Linked DNA regions of Homo sapiens: region 2 is linked to region 1. Evidence: fine-mapped expression QTL. A gene starts in region 1. The other region holds a variant in brackets. All regions are shown on one strand. Distances are from middle to middle. Region 1 holds the start of HMGCLL1 (3-hydroxy-3-methylglutaryl-CoA lyase like 1). Region 2 overlaps HMGCLL1 (3-hydroxy-3-methylglutaryl-CoA lyase like 1).

Region 1 (2,921 bases):
AGATAAGATTGCAATTTCACATATGATACACTAAACTGAGAATACACAATAGAAAATGAATATTTTATATTAGAATAGTTGATTTAAATCCACATGGTACAATTATGCTTAATGACTAAAATATTACAATAACAGAAGTTATTTTGTTCACTAGTCGAATCAGAAATAATCTTGTATCCAGCACCTGTAATTTAACAAGAAGTCCTCACAGTGCTCCTCCTTTATTCCATGTTTCAACATTTTCATAACAATTATCAGTTATTTAATATTTTGTGGAATTTTAGATTTTCAAGTTTTTTAAGGAAAAAGTTAATTTCTTTATACACCTTTTCTTTATTTATCTGACACTGGTTAAGAGTGCATTAAATCATAAGTATATGAATAATATTAAGTTGCCTATTGTCTTAACATGCCCTTTCAGGAACAATGTGGGAATAAATTTTAGTCTGAAATTGCTGTTATTTACACTTTCTTTCAAGTTTGTTGAAGCACAAATACATTTGGGATAATTAATGTTCTGATGGATTATTTCATCCTACTATGTCTTCTTAACCTTCTACCGGTTTCATTCCTTTTTCTGCCTCACATTGTGACAAATTTGTAGTCTTTGTTACACAGTACAAGGAGCACTGAGAATAAGGGCGGTATCCTTGAAGGAATACCTATGAATACAAATTGTATTACGTAATGCATCCCTTTCCAGGAAAACACAGAGAAGGAATTCTTTTCTTTAGGCGACCAGCAAATGGTCACAGGCAGGGATTTTGCAGGGTCTGATCTGTAGAGGCGGGTCGATACATTCACCGAAGAGAGATAACGGGAAACCGTTTAAGGGGTGCGGCCTAACACGACAGAACTGCTGCGGGAAGGGTCCTGGGGTGAGGAGGTGACATAAAGGGAGGAGGGCACCAAGAGGTTGCAGGGAGAGAGGCTGGCTGTCAGTGTGCGCATGAGGGTGGGGACACCCTGGGCCGCGAGGTGGTACCTGCGCGGGGTCGAGCGCCCCTGCCACTGAATCCCCGATCCAGAGATGCTCCCGGAGAAGCTGCTGGTAGCTGAGGCAGTGCTTCACCGCGGATGGCACATTCCCCATGGCGGAGCCTGGGGCGGCAGTCGGCGAGGGGAGGGAGACTGGAGGAGGATGAGGGGCGGGCACCGCGCTGGGAAACTGCGCCAGCTCGGGAGCGCGCCCCTCCGGTGCACTGGCTGTGAGGACCAGAGCTGTTCTGCGCACTGCGGCGGCGCCGAGAGGGCGGGGAGTGGGGCGTGGCAGGTGGCCGCGCCTGGGGCAGCGGGTGCACGGGGCACCTGCGGGAATCGACAGAAATGCCGAGCACCTGAACAGGAGAGAAAGGAGCTGAGCCAGAGGATGTCCAGGGGTGTCTCATTTTCCGCACTACACTGAGCGCCCAGGGCTGACTGTATCTTAACGTGCCCACCTACTTCTCACCTGGCATAGATCAGGTGTAGAAGAAAAGGGGTCTAAAATAAAAGGAAGGGGCGTGAGTGTTTATGTTGATGAGTTCGTTCATTCCCAGCTGCAGCCTTGGGTGCTCAAGTGTAGATTTGCCTACCGTTGAGCTCACGGAGTTTATGCTTTATAACAATAAGCTCTATTTAAAAATGTTTTTGAGGCAATCAGCAAGGTTAAAACATATCCAACAGTCTAATGAAAAGGAAAAGATAGTCTTAAATTAGGTTACATGTCAGAGGTACTCTCAGAGGTACGTTCCTAAATGAGAGGTAAGCTGTAAGTTGGTGCTGCGGTTAAGCGCTGAAATGGAACTGCGTGTTTAAAAGTCTCATGGCACAAAATTATTAAAGCCCTAAGGACTAGATTTATCCAAACGGAAAATTCTATACAAGTTCTTAGGATATTAGAATTGGAGACATTTTTAGTGGAAGAGAGGGTTTGAAAAAATAGCCTTCGAGCAGACCACCGGCCTACCTTCCCCCCCTCACTTTCACATGTAAACTTACGTGTATTGTCACACCCTAATAATCTTCGCAGTGGGTTCAGTGGTTTGCAGCTAAAATGACATAGTCATCAAGAATAGTCTCGTGCAGGATACCTAGGGTCTTCCGGAGACCCAGCCAGGGTGTCCATGGCCAGGAATACGCATCAGCCCTGGTGGCTGATGGAGCAAATGTAAACCAGGAGCCAACCGATGCACACCGTAGTATAAACACACAGAAGAAATTTACCATTCAAAGTCAAACCATCCTTACCACTTGTGTGTTGCATGGGTGGGGGTTTGGGGGGTGGGCAGTGAGACTTCCACAGGTAATAAAAATAAATGGGTTAAGGGAGGAAAAAGACAAAGAGTGGAAGAGAAATCGTGTAGATCCTTCGGTAAAACTGCACTAGAAAGGGCAAAGAGGATGAGGAGGTCATAGTCTTCTTCTCACAGTTAACCAAGGATTTTTTTTTTCTTTTTTCTTTCTTTTTTTTTTTTTTTTTTTTTTTTTTTGAGACGGAGTCTCGCTCTGTCGCCCAGGCTGGAGTGCAGTGGCGCGATGTCGGCTCACTGAAAGCTTCTCCCCCCAGGTTCACGCCATTCTCCTGCCTCGGCCTCCCCAGCTGCTGGGACTACAGGCGCCGGCCGCCACGCCAGGCTAATTTTTTGTATTTTTAGTAGAGACGGGGTTTCACCGCGTTAGCCAGGATGGTCTCGATCTCCTGACCTCGTGGTCTGACCTCCTCGGCCTCCCAAAGTGCTGGGATTACAGGGGTCAGCCACCGCGCCCAGCCGGATGTTTAACCTGGAGAACATTCCCTGAACTGCTAAAGTGAAGTTATCCAATTCCTGGATGCGCTTAAAACTCTGTAAAGCACCAAAACTCCGGTTGTTATTTACCTAAGCATGACTATCATATAGGTGTACATTCATAGAGCTAAATCTATTAGCTGTACCAGCAGA
Region 2 (2,921 bases), 120 kb before region 1:
TAAAGCACCATGAAATTAGATCAAGATATAAGCAAAGTAATAGTTCATATTTTAAATGTAGGTACACTTGATTTGACTATTTAGACTGAAATAAACTAAAAAGTACTCAAGATAGTCAATAAAAAAGTGATTACTCTGGATGTTCCAAAATATATACCTGTGAAGAACTACTCAATAGCACCTTGCTAATGAAAACAATAATATCTCTAGTTTTAGAAGAAGACAATTAAGTAGCAGGAAAAAATAAAAAAGAATATAATTCAGGTTGATTGTTAACTAATATGGCAGTAGGGTCATATGATTCATTGTGGTCCATATAAATGACATTCCTACCAAATACAGCAAATCAACACCAAACAATCTTTCCAGACCATCAGATATGCCATATATTCATGCGATTATGGGGTTTTTGGGTAATTCTAATGCCAAATTCTGTCAAAAATTAGGATAAATAAATAAGGAAGACTATATGACAATACCTCATAAATGTGGAAATGTGGTAAGAAAGACTGCTTTCCTTCTCTATGCTTACCTTTCTAAAACATGAATTACTCCTCGTCTAAAATGCTGCCATCTGCTCTCTTGGGACCTTCCCTTTCTTAAAATTCTCATCTTTATCTGTTGCAACTACATACGAAATAACTTCCTTCCTTCCTATGCTCACCATGTATGCTCATGTCTTCAGTCCGTGGGTTTGTTCCCTTTCTCAATTATACCACATCTTAGCTGTCTCCCCTGCCCCCATGACCTCTCTCCCTCACATATCTGCCTTCACACCCTATTTTGGGAATAACAACTGCATGATTTTAATTTGTCCAGAAATTTAAATTTAAATTTTCTAGAGACTTTAATTTTTCTAGAGACTTAAGTTTCAAAACATAATCCATATATATTGTGCCAATAGAATCTTATAAATTATTTAAACGTATCTAACCTAGAGCATGCAAATAATTATTAGACTTAGAGCATTTAATGAAAATGCCAGCCATCTTTACCTGTGCTTAGGTAAGCTGCCATAGAAAGGTCTAATAATTATTTTGAACACCACTTACTATTAAACTAATTATACAAACTTCTTATGTTGTAGGTATAACTCACATATATCAGTTTTCTAGGTAGTATATTGCTGCTATACATTTCAGTCAATAGGCTTCTCAGGAGTAGTTAACTGCAGAACGTGTAGACACAGCACTGACTCCATCACAATTAAAAACATCGTTTATGTAAAGGAAAGTTGTGCATGAAAGGTACAAGGAATCGCCCCAGAACTGGAACAATATGTAGGGTCAAAACTCACAAAGGAGTTATGCTGGGCTTTTGGTGTTGAGTCCAATCTTTTCTTTTTTCTTTCTTTTTTTTTTTTTTTTTCTGAGATGGAGTCTTGCTCTGTTGCCCAGGCTGGAGTGCAGTAGCGCAATCTCGGCTCACTGCAACCTCCGCCTCCTGGGTTCAAGCAATTCTCCTGCCTCAACCTCCCGAGTAGCTGGACTACAGGCACATGCCACCATGCCTGGCTAATTTTTTTCTATTTTTAGTAGAGACGGGGTTTCACTATGTTGGCCAGGCTGGTCTCGAACTCCTGACCTCAGGCAAACCGCCTACCTCGGCCTCCCAAAGTCATGGCATTACAGGAGTGAGCCACTGTGCCC[G/A]GCCCCAGTCTTTAGCTGAGAAGAGAGATAAATGATACATGAAAAAGTGGCCCTTACAATGTGAAAATTGCATGGTTATTTAAAAATAAATTTTAAAAGATGTTATATTTCATGATTTAAGTTATTTACTCTTATGCCTCAGGTTTCTTTAGAACTCTCTACTAAAGAGAATATTCCAGAAAAGTTATTCTAAAATATACAAATTTCCTAAGAGCCTCCTGAAGTGAAATAAATTGTAATACAACTGCTTCAAAATATAATAATACAAATATAACATTTTTGGCTTCAAACATTGGGGCAACTGCAGACATTTACATATTTGAAACTAAATGTCTACTTTCCTCTTTTCCTAAATCTAGTAACCCCTAGGCATCTCTCCAGATGGAATAATCATGGAAAGAAAGTGAGCTTTGTTTGTTGTTCTGTTTTTGATTGAGCTGTCCGTTTTTCTGCTCCACGTATTCCTGCTTTCCTGAGAGAATAGTTGGGATATACTTTCAGAATAAAATATTTTCAACCTCTTTTGAATGTTTTAAGTCTCACCTCCAGGGCAATACTTTGTATGCACAGAATCATAAAAAAAATAGGAAGAAAAAATGAGAATATAAAACAGGTAGAAGTCCAGAAACCACCCAACGCTTTAGACTGAAATATTTTGATAATAGCTTGTTTCATTCCTCACTTGTTCATACTCTTTGAATTTTAAATATTAAATTGGTAAAGGGGCTCTGTAGAATTATCTAGAATTAACATTTTGAAAGATATGCATGTTGAAGGACAATAGCTGTGAATAATATTAACATTAAATTCCAAGAGAATTTAATTCTCTTAATTTACTAATGTACAATATCAACTGAAAGCATAATTAAATCTGTCTATGTCATAGATTTTTATAAAGATAATTTACTGTCTTAAAAAATCTCACAAGATTATTTTAGATAAAAATATTAGACTCCTAGTTGCAAGTAGAAATCATATTGAAAAGGAAAAAGTGAAAGATGTAAAAATTCTATCCTGCAACCATAACACTAACTAATGTGACTTTTAGTGGTTTAATTATTTTTTGAGTTTAAAAGGCCGTTTCTACTGCCAGGCTTCTGTGTACATACATGGATAACCACCTCCAGGATATTTTTAATAAATATAACCTACTACCAAGTTCTCCAAAACACAAGCAAATTGCATGACAATAATTAGCCTCACACTCAGTTCTGAATTTGATTCAGTTTCATTCAGATTAATAATCTACTCAAGATTAATGATTAAACAAGT

What was found. PIP is the estimated chance that this variant, and not a neighbour inherited with it, causes the effect.
Region 2: its variant is the best candidate, but not a certain one, in a credible set for the expression of HMGCLL1 in gastroesophageal junction (GTEx, PIP 0.77).

Annotation. Positions count from the first base shown.
Region 1 is chr6:55,577,963-55,580,883 of GRCh38, forward strand. HMGCLL1 (3-hydroxy-3-methylglutaryl-CoA lyase like 1) reads right to left here and starts at 1,230. Exons shown (of 9, transcript NM_001042406.2): 1 at 986-1,230. The coding sequence starts at 1,093.
Region 2 is chr6:55,461,679-55,464,599 of GRCh38, forward strand. The region is part of intron 7 of HMGCLL1 (3-hydroxy-3-methylglutaryl-CoA lyase like 1); the gene reads right to left. Among named protein-coding and RNA genes, the nearest start is that of HMGCLL1, 120 kb to the right of the region's middle. The variant G/A (reference allele first, on the strand shown) is at 1,650.